Homo sapiens: one gene and its partners. The protein of the gene in region 4 interacts with the protein of the main gene of each other region in a biochemical or structural test. Each region holds a gene or a part of one and is shown on either strand. Other genes may lie near its edges.

Region 1 (4,206 bases), on a different chromosome or scaffold from region 4:
ATTACATCCATGTAGCATGACATTTAAAAGTTTTATACTGTGCACATGCTCATAAAATTTCCATTAACCTGCTTTACACTACCACAAGAAAATGGCTTTTCACTGAATTTGGAAGGTGCATGTTGGGTGGTCTGACCTAAAATTCAGGCTATGTGGCACAAAAAAAATTTGCTGTGTGGCTGCTAATAAATTAGACAGTCATTCTCCAGAAGAGGTTTAGGTTTGTGATAGAATCATTTCACACTTGAGGAATCACAGGCAGCTTGTTCAAAAGAAGTACTAGCAGGAATTTATTTAATAGTCATTACTGACTCCCCTGAGCAACAAAGGACTGGCAGCAAATGTATGTGCATGAATGTACATGGGTGTGCACACACATTAATATCCATTTAGGATATGATATGGCTTGGATGTTTTGTCCCCTCTAAAACTCACATTGATATGTGACCTCCAATGTTGGAGGTGGACCTAGTGTGAGGTGTTTGGGTCATGCAGGCAGATGTTTCATGAATGGCTTGGTGCTGTCCTGGCAGTAATGAGTGAGCTCTCACTCTGAGTTCACAAAAGATCTGTTTAAAAAAGCACCTCCTCCCTCTCTCTCTTGCCCCCTCTCTCACTATGTGACACACTGGCTCCCCTTCACCCTCTGCCATGACTGTACGCTTCCTAAGGACCTCACCAGAGGGAGATACTAGCACTATGCTTCATGTCCAGCATCCAGAACCATGAGCCAAATAAACTTCTTTTCTTTATAAATTACCCTGTCTCAGGTATTTCTTTATAGCAACACAAATGGACGAATACAGGGTATTAGGAAATATCCTAAAATATTAGCAATAATTTTCTAAGTAGAGATATTTTAGAATTACACTAATACGGTACCACTAGACACACAGGCCTATTTACGTAAAATTAAATACTATTTAAAATTCCTTCCTTCAGTCACACTAGTCACATTTCAAGGGCTCTATAGCCACAATAGCTAGTGGCTACTGTATTGGACAGTGCAGATGTAGAACATTTCCATCATTACATAAAGTTCTTTTGGAAAGTGCTGTTCTAGAAGTTTTCTTCATGTTCTTCTTTATACTTTTTCCAAATTTATTACAATATGCATTGTAGTATATTCCACTTATTAACAGGAATAAAAACACTATGAGAAAAGAAAATGAGGTTAAGAGAGGAAACATTACACTAGAGGTGCAGAGGACACATTCTGTGGAGAGAATCCTGGGGATATCATACTAGGTGGGGAAAAGCAGGTGGTTACACAGGCACTCAGGGAAGAACAGGAAAGGCTAAAAAGAGACATGAGAATAATAGACATTCCAAGGTAAGAAAGAACACAGAAATTCTAACAGCAAGGGTGGGGAAGGAGGCAATTAGCAAGAAGTTACAGGTTCTTGTCTCTCCCCACTCACCAGCCATTACAGCTGCTGACCGCTGAGCTGGCTCAAAAGGACATTTCCCCCGGCCACTCTCAAGTCTTTCAACCTGCTGGAACCTGGACACATCCTATAGACCAGAAGGGGGCAATTGGTTTAGGGGTCATAGGGAAGGTTCATGGTGAGAATTACAAAGATGGTCAGATGAAGGAAAAGGTCAATTCCCATTCCTCTCCCCTTCCACTCCCTACCCCCAACTATCATCCCCATATTACCAGTCAGCTATTCCTGATGCCCCCATCTACTCCTGCATTTCTCATCTCTGCTATCCTTTGTTCATCAGTTTATTCCTCTTCCCTCAATTCCCCCAGCAGCCAACACCCACATGCCCTGATGAAGAAATTCCTAGGACAGCCCAAGAAGCACCTAAGAGGCTGAAGGTAGGTCTTTCCTCTGAAACACTGCTGAACTGTAGGGTTTGTAACTGGCTGGAGAATATGCTACATGACAAGAAGGATCAGGAAGAAAGCAGGCCTCCTGAGGACTGGAAACCTTAGAAAGGACAAAGAAAAGTGCAGGCTGATAAAGGACCATCTGAAACCCAGAGGCCTAGAGAGACAAGGGCCATCCTCCTCCTATTCCCCACCCCAAGGATGAAAGACAGAGCTGCATCATACGACCAAGGGCAGAGGACAGGGGAACCAGCAAAGTCAGTAAAGAATGACCTGAAGCTCAGGTCAGAATGTGAGAGTTTGGTAGTAAGTACCTTCCTCACCCAGGGACTCCAGAGGGACTGACATGGGCAAGGAACAAGAGGTGTAAGAGCTTCATCAGGGCCAGCCAGAAGTTACCTTAGTCTAGCATTTGGCACTAAGAGAGGCTTCAAGATAACATCTAAAAACAAGGATGATTTCAACCTAGGACTGAGAGGGAAGTTAACAGTGGCTGGTTGAGAGTCAAAGTTATGGCACGGAAATGCCAGGGATGATATCTTTAGTTCACAAACTGGCGTGGGCATATGGTGTCATTGGAGCCTAATTACTTCCATGGTAGCTGTTGCAGAAATATCGATATATATCCCCTGAAAAATAAGTGTACTACTGGCCCACTCCGATTACTCATCTCTTGTTCTAGATGGCAAACAAGATTCTATTTTACTGAGAGTCTGGAAGAAGGCCTGTTAAAACTTTTGAAGTCCCCAAAAACGGAATGCTGGGTCAGAAGAGTCTGCTGGAATGGAGGACTCCACAGAGGCACAGCACTCCAGCTGTGTGACAGTGGGAGCATCCTCACCTGAGAAGAAAGATGGGTTTGGTGAGAGATTAACAAGATGGTTGGGCACTCTAGAGATGTGGTACTTACCTGCTGCTGCTTCCCTTCTTACCTCTCACCTAAACCATGGCAGTAAACTCCTTTCTCCACATCATCTAGCCACCCCCACCAACCAAGTTATTCTAATACCCACCCAAGATTAATCTGAAGTATTGGTCACTGACTTAATAATAACTTTTTGTGCAAGAGAATGAGAAAATAGTCCACCATTGCCTGGAGTACAACCTCATCAGCCAAACCTACTTATTTTCAACTACTTTTCAAAATGACCTTTGTTCTATCCAAACCAGATCACCTGTTATTCCTGGAAGACAAATAATGTTTTCTATGCCTATAACTACTGCCTTACATTTCTCCAAGGACTAAAGGGATGAACTTTTTCTCAGTTCTCATTCTCTTTAACCCTTATGCACCATTTGATACTTTTGACTCACTCCCTTCCTTGAAATATTCTATTCCTTGACTCTCCTGAAACTCTGCCCTTCTGGAATCCCTCCTATCTGTTATTTCTCCATTTCCTTCTTCTTCTTTCTAGCTCCCACATGTGTATCCTAAGAATCCACCTTTAGTAGCTTTCACATATGCTTCAAAGATCTCATTCATTCTTTCCAGCCAGATATTCTATGCAAATCATTCCCCAAACTCTCCAAATCTGATATCTTCTAAACTCTAGCCCATATTTTTATTTGACTGCTGGACTTCCTCACAGAGATTTCCTATCTGCCCCTTAAAACTCAATATGTTGAAACTAGTTCTTTTTCAGTTTTCCCCAGCAGCATCATCATATCATCCAGGTTTCTAACCTTTGAAGAGGTGAGCCTCCTATTAACTAGATAGGTTATGATTATTGCATGGTCAAAATGACATTTAACTCGGGTCTGAAAGAGACATGACCACTCCACTATATTATCTATCTGAATGTTGAGATTCTTCATTGTATCATCATTGTGTTAGTCAGCAGCATAGTCTCTGAGAATCAGCTGTGGTAAAGCAAAGTCCCTGAAGCTGAAAGCTGGAGCTGGACAGGAAGGCTCTCTCTGAGCTATGGGTTGGAACTGGTCCTTTGGCCTTGGCCAAGAGGAGTTTAAGGCATAGGAAGGACCTTTCCCAGGTGGCTAAGAAAAAAAGCAAAGAAAAGAAAGATGGTTCCTAGTACATGAAACACATCAAATGCCACAAGAAATTGAAGACAGATAAGGTCTTCTGGGCTGCAGGCTAGACTAGAGGGACAGGATAGTGGAACAGAGCCAGAGACAAACACAGGTTTAAATTTTGGTTCTGCCTCTGCTAGCTATTCAGTCTTAGAGACAATACTTAATTTCTCTGAACTTCAGTTTCATTACTTGTAAAATGGAAATAATACCTAAATATCATGATGTGGTGATAAGAATTAAACTTAATCCTTAATGTAAAGTACCTAATACCAAGTCTTCATCAGAGCAGACACTCAACTGAATGGTTGTCATTGTTGCTGTTTGTTGTTGTTGTT
Region 2 (4,804 bases), on a different chromosome or scaffold from region 4:
CCCCTCTGAGGGCAGGGAGGCTCCACCCCAGCTCTGGGTGGACAGTCCTGGGGCCCACACCCAGGGGAAGCCATGCCTAAGAGGGGGCCAGGCCTGGGGGTCAGAACCAAACCACAGGTGCTCCCTGGGACCCCTGGAGGGATGACTGGGCGTCTTCCCAGCTGGGAGAAAACCTGGCCCTGGCAGGGGCGCCCCTTTGTCCTTCAGGAGGCAGGAGGGGGCAGTGAGGTCCCAGGCTCTCTGGCTCTGTCTCCCTCCCCCTGTTGCTGCTCTACGGTGGGGGTTCAGGGTTCAGGGATCAGGGCCAAGCTGTAGGCAGATGTGGAAGGTGTCTCGGTGGCTTCAGTGGGGGCCCCAAGCCCAGCTGGCAGGCCTGGTGACTCAACAATCTGGGATGGGGAGCACGGTACCCTCGCCTCCCCGGCAGGCAATACCCCATAGGGGACCCATTCCCGCAGCTGTCCACGGTGCCTCGCACCCCTCTGCTGCTCTCCCTCCTCAGAAACTGATGAATCGCCTGGTGCAGGAAGATGGGAGCACCACCTGCCCTGGGCGGGAGCACCACCTGCCCTGGGCGGGAGCACCACCTGCCCTGGGCGGGAGCACCACCTGCCCTGGGCGGGAGCACCACCTGCCCTGGGCGGGAGCAGCACGGGCCAACTAAGTAGAGTCTTCATCTGTGAAGTTGGAGGCCCCCTCACCACTTGCCACAGGCCTGTGTTCTGCTCACAGGCACGTGCCCTCATCTTGATGTTTGGGGATGGGGGTGGTTGGGCCCCAGGTAGGGGTGAGGGCCAGACCCAGCCTCTGTGAATGCCAGCGGGAGGGTGGGCTTGTAACATTACATAGAAAGAACAGGCGGCCTTACTGGACCTGATGTCCCGCAAGGCTGGGCTGCAGATGGAGAGCCAAGGCCCACACGGCCTCACTGTCAGGGGTGGCCTCCCCTTGCCCTCTGGAGGGGTCCTCCATTGATACCCCCTGCCTCCTTTGTGTGTGAAGGCACGGGCTTACCAGTGCCTCGGTCCCCGAAGCCCCCGGGTCCGGGAGGGGCCAGTTAAAGCATTCCTGTGGCCCTGGCAGGGTGGCCCTGACAACTAGACTCCTTGGTCCAGGCCAACAAAGGCCTTACTCCCTGGAGCCACCTCAAACCTCAGCACCCAAAGCGGCCCGTTATTTCCATGTTGCAAATGAGAGAAAACAGGCTGGGAGAAGCACCTCACGAGGTCCAGCGGGTGGGCAGCCCTCGCCTCCCCGAAGGTGGGAGCCGCCCCGGCCTCCGCGTCGGGTTCTGGGCCGCGAGAGGGGCGGGGCAGGGGCGCAGGGCTGGAGTCGGTGGCTTTGTAGGGCCCCGCAGGGCGCGGAGCCACCTGGGGAAACGGAAGTTCAGGGAGGGCGAGGCCGTGCCCCACATCCAGGCAGCGCAGGCCGCGGGCCGCTCCCCTAGCCAGGAAGAGCCGCCGTCCGCACCGGGACCGGAGAGGAAGCGGAGGTCTGAAGGGGGACAGGTCGGACGTGGCCTCAGAGAGGGAGGATGTGGGCCCCGGAGCTGAGCCAGGCGGCCGGAACCCCACGGGACCCGCGCGCACCTCCCCACCAAAGGGGCCCCGGCGTTGGGGGGCGAGGGGTCGCTGCCCTGGAGGACGTTGGGACCTGCCGCGCTGCGCTCCGAGGCGGGGAAACGGAGGGACGGCGGGGCGGAGGGGCGAAGCGAGCCTGGACTCCGGGGGAGGCGAGGCCGGGAAGACCCAGTCCCGAGGAGCAGAGGGGGCGGGCCAGCTCCGGGCCGGGGGCGCCGACGGGGCCGGTTCCGGTTGGGGGGGTCCCTGGGCCCGGCGGGGTTGCGGGACGCGCCGTCGGGGAGCTGCGGCCCGGGAGCCCGTCCGGAGGCGGCGCGGGGTCCGGGCGGGGCGCGCAGGGGCGGCGCCAGGCGGTGACGTGCGCGGGGGACGTGCCGCGCCAGCGACCCGAGCACTTAAAGTCGCCCCCGGCGCGGAGCGGACCGGCAGAGGCGGGCAGAGGCGGCGAGAGGCGGCGAGAGGCGGGCTGAGGCGGCCCAGCGGCGGCAGGTAGGCGCGGCCGCGATGCTCGCGCGCGGGCCGGGGCCCAGGAGCTCCCCCGTGCCGGGCAAGGGGGCGACCTCGGGGTCCGCGCTCTCACCCCCACCCCGCCCACTTTGTCCATCAGGTCCGGGGGCGCCCGGGGCATGGACTAGCCTTCTCGACCCCGAGCGGGCCCCACCGAGGGCTCCCGAGAGCCAGCCGCGCCCCTCCGCGCCCTCGCATACCTGGCTGCCCAGTCTCGTCTCCCCCGGTCCGGCCCGGCGCCCACCCGTCGGGCTGCCCTCAGGGGCTGGGCTCGGGCCAGGAGATGGCTGCGCCGGCGGCCAAGCCCGGTCCGGGTATAAATAGCTCGGTCCGCGGTGGCGGGGGGCGCGGGCTATATTTGGTGGGGCTGCTGCAGCCCTCCCTGTATGGGTGGCCTCCCCGAGGGAGTGGGGAGCACTTGCGCTCGGGCCGTGGCGCTTTCCCCTGTTCGCAACACCCTGAACACTCCCCGACCCACACCCGCCCTTGGGCAATGACTAACAGCCCGAGACCGTGCAGGGAAGTGGGGGACCCTCTCCAGAGCCAGGCTGGGCTCCCTGGGTTCGCCCTACCTCCACCCCTGGCCCCCAGCTCGTGGGAAAACCAGGCGCAGCCTTTGGTAGCCTCCCACTTCCTAACCCACGCCTCAGTTTCCCTATACGAAAAGTGGGTTGGTCAGGAGCCTCCCTGGGTGTTGGGCCAGTCAAGAGACAGGAGCCGCAGAGTGGAAGGGAAGCCCTTAGCTCTGGCCGGGGCCTCCAGGGGTGGCTGGAGTCGGTGAGGGACGATGGGGGGAGCCGAGGGGCGGCTGTCCTCCTCTCTGTCCCAGAGGCATGGGCTGAAAGGGTCCCTCTCCTGGTGATGGCCAGAGTCAGGCCTGCTGGGCGGGAAATGGCAGTTGGCCCACCCCAAGGCCCAGGGGCTTGTCCATGCTGAGCACAAGGGTGGGAGGTCTTGTGTCTGTTGGGGCCGGGGAGTCCAAGGTCCCAGCTTCACTGCACAGGCCTGGAAGTCAGGTGGGTGCTGGCCTGACCCTGCTGAAGGAGGGTCTATTCCGCCAGCGTGGTGTGGAGGCGGCTGGGCTCGACTCCCTCATGGAGGGAAGGAACTGAGGAGGTGCTAGGAGGCCGTGGGGGGGTGTCTGCCCCCAGAGAGGCTTTGAGTGCATGGGGGCTCTGCCGTGGCACGTGCAGCGTCTGTCCCCCAGGGCCCCATGGTGTGGACAGAGTCTGGGGTGGGCACCTGGAGGCCTGGTCTCAAGGCAGGCTTGGTAACGACCCCATGTGACCTTGGGCAGGGCCCGCCATCCAGGCCACCCAGAAAGCCATGTGGCCTGCACGATCAGGCCAGACCCCACTGACTGGAGCGGGGCACTTTACTTTGGAGGGGCAGCTACCAGAGGGCTCTATGGATCCCAGCCCAGCCGTCAGGCCGGACGGGTCCCCCCTACTGGCCTGCAGTGACCCTTATGCCAGGCTCGGCTGGCTCAGCGGTGGGTCCTGGGGTGACCTGGCCACGTGGGACAGAAGGGCCTGTGCCGCTCCCTCCAGTGAGGTGCCAAATGTGGGCCACACTCTGGGCCCCAGCGGGGGCCTTCCGGGCAGTGGCGCAGAGCCATTGGAGGTGCCCGGGCCCTGGGGCAGGGGCGGGGCGGGAGCAGACAGAGCTCAGGGCGTCCTCCTAGCGTCACCTGCCCGAGTCAGGCCCATCTGTGAAATGGGCCACGCCGGGCAGCCGCACGCAACGGAACCGAACCGCCGGGCTCCTGCTCCGAGACCCGCAGTTCACGAGTCGACGCCCCCGAGTCCCGAGCCGCGCCCACTGGTCCCACCTCTGCAGCAAGTGGAGTCGGCCCCGCCCTGTGGCTTCGAGGCCCCGACGCCTGGCGCGGCTCCCGGGCTCCGCTGACCCCGGTGGACCCGCGCGCCGGCAATTACGGTAGCGTCCAGTAGGGCGCCTACTGCGGGCAATACGGGGGCTCCTCCCATGGCGCGGTCACGTCCCCCACGTCCCGCGGCTGGCGGGGCGGGGCCGGGCGGAGCATCCTTCCCTCCCCCTCCCCCGGGTGGGCCCCGCCCAGCCTCGACCACCCGCGCCGACCCCCGCCCGCAGAGCCGGGAAGCCGGAACCCGCAGGCGCCCTCCAGCCGTCCCTCCGGCCCGGGCGGGGATTGCGCCGAGGAGGGGCCTCTCCTGGCGAGGGTGGAGTTTTGGGTTCCCCCCTTCGCCCCGCACCTCCCGCCTTCCTGCCTCCTCCCGGTCTTCACCTTCCCCCCCGGGTCCCCACGACGCCCGCTGGGCGGCGGTGGGGTAGGGGGCGCCTCCTGACCCGACTCCCCTTCCAGCCTTGGCCTTCAGGCACTGGCTTTAGGGTGGAGGGGCGGCCTTGCGGGGTCCAGGAGGCCTCGGAGGTGGGGGACGGCGGCTCTGGACCAGCTCCGGCCCCCACCACCTCCCGGCCCCAGGGCGGTGACAGCCTTGCGGAGAAGGGGTCTTCAAAGCTCTGAGACCCCGCAGTGCCAGCTCAGGATTGAAGCCTGCGGCGGCACATGCAGCCTTCCTTTCCCAAAGGGGACTTGCGCCCAGCCCCACTTGGGGCACCAGTGGGGGCTCCTGGCCCTGGCCCTGGGTGGGAGTGGCCAATCCGCAAATGAGGCCTGTGTGTCTGCCCCGCCGGCCCCTGCCGTCGTGATGTAAGCGGACACAGAGCGGCAGGGC
Region 3 (4,220 bases), on a different chromosome or scaffold from region 4:
CCTTCCCCTAACAAGCGGAAGACGCCCTGTTTTCTCTCACTACCTTTATTAACTTGCTGCCCAGTGAGCTTGAGTATTCCTGAGGGCAGAATAGCTTCCCCATCTTGAGTGGGCTGTCTTTCCTCACTGTGGGAGAGCAGCCCCTATATCATTAAGATCCAACCCTCATTTTGGTTATTTCAGCTTCAAACTGTTCCAAGCTTCACCTTCTGTGCCAGCCAAATACGTGGAAGACAAAGAGAAGATGCTGTCTCGAACAATGCAGTTGGTGGAGCTGGCAAATGAGACGTGGCTGGTGACCGGGAGGCATCCCTTGCCCGTCATCACTGCTGCGACTTTCCTGGCTTGGCAGTCGCTGCAGCCTGCAGATCGGCTTTCATGTTCCCTTGCCCGATTTTGTAAATTGGCAAATGTGGACCTGCCCTACCCGGCGTCCTCCCGCCTGCAGGAGCTGCTGGCTGTGCTGCTGCGGATGGCTGAGCAGCTGGCCTGGTTACGAGTTCTGAGACTTGACAAACGGTCTGTGGTGAAGCACATCGGTGACCTTCTCCAGCACCGCCAGTCACTGGTCCGCTCTGCCTTTCGGGATGGGACAGCAGAAGTGGAGACCCGAGAGAAGGAGCCACCGGGGTGGGGACAGGGGCAAGGAGAAGGGGAGGTGGGAAATAATTCCTTAGGTTTACCCCAGGGGAAGCGGCCGGCCAGTCCTGCCCTTCTCTTGCCACCCTGCATGTTGAAGTCCCCGAAGCGGATCTGCCCTGTACCCCCTGTCTCCACTGTCACTGGAGATGAGAACATTTCTGATAGTGAAATAGAACAGTATTTGCGTACCCCTCAGGAAGTTAGGGACTTTCAGAGAGCCCAGGCTGCTAGACAGGCTGCCACGAGTGTCCCTAACCCTCCCTGATGGATATCCACTGGGAGCACTTCATCCTGTTCTGACAGCTTGATAACATTCCTGTTATAACCAAGGATGGAAGTGTACACCAGTCCGTAGGTATTGCTTTTCTTGTTTGAAGGAACCAAGAGGGGCTCTGCCATTAGTTGGACCCTGGGTCCTGGAGTAAAGTCAGGAGTGCAGGGATGACTATAGGTAGGAGAGATTCCCATCCCTTGGTGTGGGAGAGCAAGTTGCCTATGTCCATGTTCTGTGAGATGGCTTTCCTCATAGATGGATGGGAAAATGTCAGGCTCTTTGCTGCTGGTTTGAATTGGACACACTGCTGCGGCTCCTCCTGCAGGCCTGAGGGGGCTTCCCTCTGCTTGTGGAGTGGTTGGCATTCCCAGCAGTATCAACCCTCAGAGGAGCGGGAACTGGGGAATTCTGGCCCTACGTGCATTCACAGGCAATGATGGGTTTGTGTGTATGGTGTCATGAGATCCTCTACCTCATAACAAAAGGACAGTGGGTAGACTAAGGCAGTAGCTCAAAGGGCTTTGCAAAATTTTAATATATTAAAACAAGAGGCATCTGCTAGAAAACATTCTATTGTATAAAACCCGAGTTCTTAAAAACATGTTTTCTTTGGCACTTTCATTCCCTCCCTCCCCTTTCCCCAGCATATTGCAAAAAGCTCTCCAGTGCTAAGGCATTGGCAGGGTGTGTAAACAGCAGCCAGCATATGTGGAAGAATAATACAAAGCTTTTTTTTTTCTTCTAATATGTCTGTGCAGCAAGCATAAATAACAGGACCCATTCCAAGGAGTGTGTGTGGGTTTTCCCCCTCCCCTGTGTCCTCTGTCACCTTGGTGATGAGGCCAGAGTGATGTGAAGACTGGGAGGGAACCCTAGGTCAGACCTTGGTTTCCTGTTGTTCTTCCCAAGACCCAGGGTTCCCTCGGTTTCCATTTGGTCCTGTAGTGAAATGCTGGTGGTTGGTTTTAGGTTGGGGAAAAGACGGGTGCTGGTGTTTAAAAGGAGTAAAGGCATAGGCCCCTCATGACCTGCAGGGACCCCAGCCACTGCCTCTGGGCTTGGCTTGAGCTCCTGGGAGTCGGGAAGCTGGTTTGACATTTTGTAGGTTTCTCTCTACTGTGGAGCTGGAGATCAAATGATTGGGATGGTTCTTCCTCTGGCCTTACGGAGGCAAGGAAGTGCTCTTCCTTAGTCCCGTGGTGTTGTAAGGCTGAGACTAGGGAGATGGGTCTTGTAACTGAAAAGTAACTGCTTCTCCAAACACCACCTGCAGCTTTCTGGGGCACCATTGTTTACAGGACTAGCTTTAGGGCATGACTAGATTCTGCCCCAGTTCCACCTGCCCTCTCCCTCTACTCCCCTCAGTTCACCCACAGGCACCTGGCAGTCAGCTGTTGAGGTGCAGGGCCTCAGCTTTGTCCCGGTGTGCCACCTCTGAACCCTGCTGTCTGGTTTAAGTACCACTCCTGTGGGAATGGTGGCATTGTTCCTAGTTGTGCCCGGTTCCCACTCCCCTCCCCCAGGACTGGTTGATGTCTAGAGCTGCCTTTCACGTGGCCCCACCCTCCCCTCTTGCATAGTGGATCTGAAAAGCAGCACCTTGTGACTTAACATCACCTGCTTCATGTGCTGGGCTAGCTCTCGTGCCAGCCAAACTCGGGAGGAAAAGGGACCTAGGATCTAGGCAGGGGCTGGGCTGAAATCAGTAGAGGGCAGGGAGGAAAGAACACAGTTCCCACGCTCTCATCTCTGCTTTGCTGGTGAGGCTGATGGCCCCCAGTGAGGCCGCATGGACAGTAGGCGGGGTGGGAGTACTTGGGGAGGGTGCACCTGGGATGTGCTGTGCCCTTTCACACAGACGGAGGCCTTCCCCGTTCCTGGGAGGGCACCGACAGTCAGACTGCCCCGGGCTGGACGGAAATGTATTATGCGTGTTTCTGGGATTGTCTGTCGCTACCCCAGAGGGATGCCCTCTAGGCAAGTGGGGAACATCCGCCTGTGGGCTTCCTCCAGCCATCGGCTCCTCTGCCTCCAACCTGCTGACTACGGAGACACCTTGGAGGGCCCCGAGGAGCGGGGGAACGAGCCGCGTGGCCAGCCCGTCTACCGCGTCGCCCGCCCCACCTTAGACGGTAGTTTCGCTCTTCCAGAGTCCGGTCTTCATGCAGCCGCCGCTGGCTACCTCCGCGCCCATCAGGGTGACGTCGTCGTACTTGCCCCCCTTGGGGGCGCCGTTTAGGCTGGCGGCGTTGAGCGGGTACGAGCGGCGATGGCTCTCCTTCTCCAGCGCGCCGCCGCCCTTGAGACTGTCGCGGCTGGCGCTGCGGCGCTGGCCTGCCCGGCCCGCCTCAGAAAGCGGCGCGGCGCTGGTGTCGCTGCCCTCGGACGGCGTGAGCATGGGCTCGCCTTCCAGCTGCAGGCCGGCGCCCGGGCTGTTGCGGCTGCTGCCCAGGTAGCTGTCGGTGGGGCTGTTGTGCAGACTGCCGCTCTCGCTGGACAGCAGCTCCAGCGCCCCCGCCGCGCCCCCGCGCAGGGCCTTGAGCCGGTTCTTGCCGCAGGCCTCCCCCGCGCGGTGTCCCTTGGCCCGGCTCTTGTGCGCCCGACGCCCGTGGTGCACGTTGTTGGGGTGGCGGTGGGCGAGGTTTCCCCGGGTGCCCGCCGGCTCCGGCTCTCCTTCCCCGCCGGCCGCCGCCCCCGCCTCGCACACCTGACTCTGGGCCAGCTGCAGGTTGGTGAGCTTGCAGGGGCCCAGAGCCAGCGGATGGCCGCTGCTGCCGCTTGGGGAGGACTTGAGGGAGGGGGGGCCCTCCCCGAACACCGGGGAACCGTCCTCTGCGGCGGCGGGCAGGGCCCGGGGCGGGGCATGGGGGGCCGCGGGAGAGGCAGGGGGGCAGCAGGCGCGCCACGAGGCTCTCACGTCCCTCCGCCTGGCACAGTGGTGAGTGAAGACGAAGAGGCCCAGGGCGGAGGCTGCCACCCCGTACAAGCAGCTGCACACCACCCGGGGCAGCCAGCGCTGGGACACTGCCAGAGCCCCGCAGGCCCACATGGCCAAGTACAGGAAGTGCGTGGTCACCAGCGCCCCTAGCTGGACTCCCGGAGAATAGAGGCTGTCACCATCCTCCGGGGGCCCGGGCGTCCCCACTCGCGCGCTCCCAGTAGCAAGAAGGGAACCTGAGTCACTCAGGAGGGGGCCGCTGCCCCTGAGCCTGGTGGAACCCCTCAGCTCCTCCCCTGCCTCCAGGGAGGCCCTGCTGTTGCCCGCCTTGGGGTTCTGTGCCAGAGGACCCCGTAAGCGTAGCCC
Region 4 (4,913 bases):
AGCAATCACATCTTAACAGTCCTTTACTGCAGATGTAACTGCTCATAATACATATTATAAACACTTCTTCTTTTAACTTAGCCTGTGTACCTGCATTTAAAGTATTTTGTAGATTATCACAAGTTAATAGCAATACTAAACTTCAAAGTGTTCAAGGACACAAATATTTCACTCTTTTAATGCTAGAAGTCTTCAATATAAGAATACTTAATACAAATAGGGACATATCCACTTATAAAACAAATAGATATTTTGTTCCCTACTTTTAAAAACTCTTAAAAACATGCTGAGCAAATATTGAATATAAAAATCATAAAAAACTTATAAATTTATATATATGCTCACTGCAGTAAAATGTATAAAAGCATACATCAATAAACGTAAGAATTTTGGGCCAGGTGCAGTGGCTCACACTTGTAATACCAGCACTCTGCGGGGCTGAGGTGGGAGAACTGCTTGAGCCCAGGAGTTTGAGACCAGCCTAGGCAATGCAGGGAGGCCTCCGTCTCTACAAAAAATAAAAAAAATCAGCCCAGTGTGGTGGTGTGTGCATGCAGTCCAAGCTACTTGGGAGGGTGAGGTGGGAGGATCGCTTGAGCTCAGGAGGCTGAGGCTGCAGTAAGCCATGACTGCACCACTGGACTCCAGCCAGGGTGACAGGGCAAAACCCTGCCTCAAAAAAACAAACAAAAAAACCCCGCAAAAAAAGGAACTTTTCAAATGCTGCAATCTTGGTAGAAATGTAAATATTCTAAAATGCTACGTAAGACAAAAATCAGTAGAAATAACGGAGAAATTAAAATCCACTCAAGTTCTGTAGAATATTACTAATACTGTACTTGGAATGTATGTCACAGATAAAGTTCATAGGTATATTTAACTCAGAGATTTCTTAAAGATTTATCTTAGTTTGACTTACCACATACCTTTAGGACCTTTAATGAGCTTTATTTCCATTATTTTTTCTGACACTGGTTTCCTTCTTTTTACATACAAGCGTACAATAGACCCTGCTTCTTTCAACGCTTCAACTGCTTTGCTATGTGTTACATCACGAACATCTACTTCATTTACTCGTAATATACAGTCATTGACCCTGAGAAAACAATTAAATATTAAAAATAAAAATTAAATATAATTTAAATATAAATTTTCCACTTTACCAATTTTTTGTTACTTCTTTTTTAAGGTAAAGAGAATTATAAATAATTCTGGAGTAATTCCAGAAAACATAAATGAAGAAAGTATATCAAAAACTAATATAAACAAATACAAACATTTCCCAAGGGCCAGCAAAAGGAACAAAAGAAATAGTGAAAATAATAGATTATATAAAAATGTTAAATAATAATTACAGCTACCATTTGCATACTTCCTGCATGCTTATTCTGTGTAGGCATTAAGACACACTTTATAAAAATAGCAAACATTTATTTAGCACTAACCACATGCCAGGCACTTTCTTGGTATTTTAACCCTCATGACACCTGTAAGCTTAATATATATTTTAATCCCTATTTCACAGATGGAGAAACTGAGGCACAAAGAATGTAAATAACTTTCCTAAGGCCACCCAGATAATAAGTGACAGAGCTGTGATTCAAAGATAAGAAAACTGAGGCTCACATCACGAGTTTAAGGTCACAGAGATAGTGTGAAAACTGAGATAAAGTAAAAATAATTTTCTGAGTGCCTATTCCAACCTATATATTAGACATAAAACAATTAAGTTATTTTTTGAAATTTATATAAAGATTAGGTCACTTAATTCAAAGGTTTCGTAGGTAAAGAACTTATAATTTGCCATGGTGTTATGTTTTTTAAAAGTCTGATTTGTTCCTAGTCTTAGCCTTTTCCCTAGTTCTGGTCTCTTTGATTGCATGGTATTCCACCAGGAAAAAAAGATGGTCATCTCAAATTGGGTAGAGAGGGTAAACAAAACATAATTAAAATATTAAAACTGGTCCTGACAAGCTTCTATATCTAACAGAATCAGGAAGTAAATGTCTACATTTACATGAATGGTCAAATGATTAATTTTTATATCTATTTGATTTCATTAATATACCACCTGTCATACCCAGTGAGAATTATAAAGCTTAGAAATTCAAAAACTGCGTAAGGCATCAACGTCCTTAAAATAAGATGCTGTTTTTAACAGACTACATAAACTCTTTAGTCCTAAAACTTCAGGGTATTTGAACAACAAACAAGGAAATAGGAAAAATGACATAATTTATGACCCTCAAAAAATCAAAGTTTGCAAAATATATCTTCCAAAATGGAACACTAAATTTAAACAGAGACAAATGTTATTTTCATCTAGTCAATAAGAAAATATATTATTTAAAGTTTGCATATAGTCTTTGTGGTGTGGGATTCAACATGGATGTGTGATCCTCTATCCTCCGTATCTTAAATAAGTTTATATACATGTTTCCCAGCCAGAGAGGAAATGGAAAATATTCTGTGAGTGTACTTAAATAAGTTTATACACATGTTTCCCAGCCAGAGAGGAAATGGAAAATATTCTGTGAGTGTATCTGAAAACACAAAGGGAAACTCATGATTTCTATAAATATGCTCACAAAGATTTAAACCATCAACCAAATTTGTTATTCAAAATGTTATAATATCTAAGATAAAACTGGAGTCTAAATGAAAACAGGAACACAATGCTTAGAGCATAATTATCTCATTCATTGACTTGAATGTTGTTAAAGCATCTACCCTATGCTAGTTATCATGATCGTGTTTGTTATTTGTATTTATCCCTTATCCAGTCTGCTTCAAGAAAAATACACAAAGTGGATTCAGCATCACAATAAAAAGCGCAAAACATACCGCAATCTTCCATCTTGGGCGGCTGCTCCCCCTGTGATAATTTTGGTAATGAAAATACTTGAGTCATCTCCAATGTGTGGGTTGTCCGTACCTCCTGCAATGCTGAAACCAAGCCCTGAATTTCCCTGAGGATAGAAGAAAAAAAATTGAGACTGAATATGATTTATCTTTATGGACAGGTTCCTGTCATTAAAGGACGCAGAAACTGTACTAACATAAGGAACACAACAAATAAAGGTATATGGGTGAGTAATATAAAGATTCTAAATTAAATGGACTTGTTCTGGAGGAAAGTCCTTTCAGAGGCATTACTGCTGAACAGGTGAGGTTCAAGAAAATACACCAAGGACTTTTGAAGTATACTCCACAGTTCTTTCTTTAAAAGTATGTGCAACTTGTCGTTGGATTAGTCACCCATCTGCAGAGGTGTCACTGTAAGTCTGTTTCTTTTAGACTGCACCTCAGCCATGTTTGGTAGGGCACATCTCTCCTAAGAGACAAATGCTGAAGTGATCTTCCCGCTGTTATTTCTGAGTAGGCAAAACCCATATACTGTTTTAGCCTTTAAAAAAGGGGGTGGCGATGGTGCTTTTCTTCTGCTAACTTGACATCAGCTTATTTTTAAATGACCAAATTGTGGCTGCTAAGTGATAGCTGCCATCAGTCCCTGACATGTTTAACCAATATACCCGATTAGCAAAAGGCATTGTTTCACACTGACTGAAAGACCAACCTGAGAACTTAACATTGGTGAATTTTCTTGACAGCAAAGTAAATTTTGCCAAAGCAGCTCTACTTTTTGCTTGTTTTATGAACTGGAGAAACAAGATTTCTGAATATGTTCTTCACAGAAAGGGTTCGACTGCTACAAAAAGCCTTTAAAAATAATTGATTTAACCAATGGTATTAAAAAATGTTTATTTCTTGAAGAATGTTCTAACTGAATTTCAGGCAACTCAAGTAAGCAAATATATGTGGACCTATCATTTAACTGTTAGTATTAAACAGTGTAAACACCCACTCTACCACCATTTGTCTTAAAATTCTATTTTAATAAAAAAATGTTTTTCAATCTAACTTCATGAATTACCTGAATCTTAAGAACAGTACCAGTGGATTATGGGAGGTTACCAAATTACTTAGGTACTCAAGTTCTTCAACCAGTGAAAAATACAATGTATAGTCCTAACTAAACAAAAGGAATTTAAAAGGCCCTGGGAAAAGATAAAAAATCAATAATATAAAAAGTTAGGAGACATCACAAACTACTATATTAAAGTATGTACAGTACATTAATACTGTGCTTACTTGAATATTACTCCAGTAGCCACCCAACTTGAGCAAGTGATCCGAATTTAAGTAGATGGCAATAAAGATATACATGTAAGAGACTCTCTCAGATTTATTTTTCTCAGATTCTATTCCAATATAAATAAATCTAATTATCTAGGATTTCAGTCTTGAGTATACACACATTTAGTTACTTAAGAAATCTGCTTGTGTGAAACACTAGATTTCCATAAAATGCTAGCCAGATAAGGTGGCATTACTATTATAACATACAATAAAAACTGAATGCAGATATTCTTTTTTCTTTTTTTTAGACAGAGTCTCACTCTGTCACCCAGGCTAGAGTGCGATCTCGGCTCACTGCAACCTCTGACTCCTGGGTTCAAGTGATTCTCCTGATTCGAGTAGCTGGGATTACAGGTCTGCGTTACCACACCTGGCTAATTTTTGTATTTTTAGTAGAGACGGAGTTTTGCCATGTTGGCCAGGCTGGTCTTGAACTTCTGGCCTCAAGTGATTCACCCGCCTCGGCCTCCCAAAGTGCTGGGATTACAGGCGTGAGTGCAGATATTCTTGAGGGAAAAACATATCTTAAGAAAATTTGCACATCTGAATTGCACCTTCAAGTCATTTTCTGATTGGGCAAGTATACCATAATTAGTTTTTAATACAGCTCTGTCTGTTAGAAGTATGGTTATTTTGCTAGAAAAGAAAATTGATATAATGACCATGTTACTAGTATACTACTTACTTAATACGAACAATACTTCATTATCATA

The links. The genes of interacting proteins can lie anywhere in the genome.
Region 1: the proteins of DLG1 (region 4) and SEMA4F interact in a test that uses a peptide from one of them, tested with the Homo sapiens proteins (one large-scale study listed by IntAct).
Region 2: the proteins of DLG1 (region 4) and SLC16A3 interact in a test that uses a peptide from one of them, tested with the Homo sapiens proteins (2 studies listed by IntAct, with this or other methods).
Region 3: the proteins of DLG1 (region 4) and ADGRA2 form a complex in vitro, tested with the Homo sapiens proteins (2 studies listed by BioGRID and IntAct, with this or other methods).

The regions. Positions count from the first base shown.
Region 1 is NC_000002.12:74,660,041-74,664,246, reverse strand, and holds part of SEMA4F (semaphorin-4F isoform 1 precursor), read right to left. Parts: intron 1,516-4,206; coding exon 1,422-1,515; intron 1-1,421. UniProt on the Homo sapiens protein: Probable cell surface receptor that regulates oligodendroglial precursor cell migration. Might also regulate differentiation of oligodendroglial precursor cells. Has growth cone collapse activity against retinal ganglion-cell axons.
Region 2 is NC_000017.11:82,227,038-82,231,841, forward strand, and holds the start of SLC16A3 (monocarboxylate transporter 4), read left to right. Parts: upstream 1-2,004; 5' UTR 2,005-2,069; exon of another isoform or gene 2,070-4,804. UniProt on the Homo sapiens protein: Proton-dependent transporter of monocarboxylates such as L-lactate and pyruvate. Plays a predominant role in L-lactate efflux from highly glycolytic cells.
Region 3 is NC_000008.11:37,841,177-37,845,396, reverse strand, and holds the end of ADGRA2 (adhesion G protein-coupled receptor A2 precursor), read right to left. Parts: coding exon 3,042-4,220; 3' UTR 908-3,041; downstream 1-907. Other genes in the region: BRF2 (transcription factor IIIB 50 kDa subunit), read left to right, coding at 184-907.
Region 4 is NC_000003.12:197,137,296-197,142,208, forward strand, and holds part of DLG1 (disks large homolog 1), read right to left. Parts: intron 2,970-4,913; coding exon 2,845-2,969; intron 1,097-2,844; coding exon 927-1,096; intron 1-926. UniProt on the Homo sapiens protein: Essential multidomain scaffolding protein required for normal development. Recruits channels, receptors and signaling molecules to discrete plasma membrane domains in polarized cells.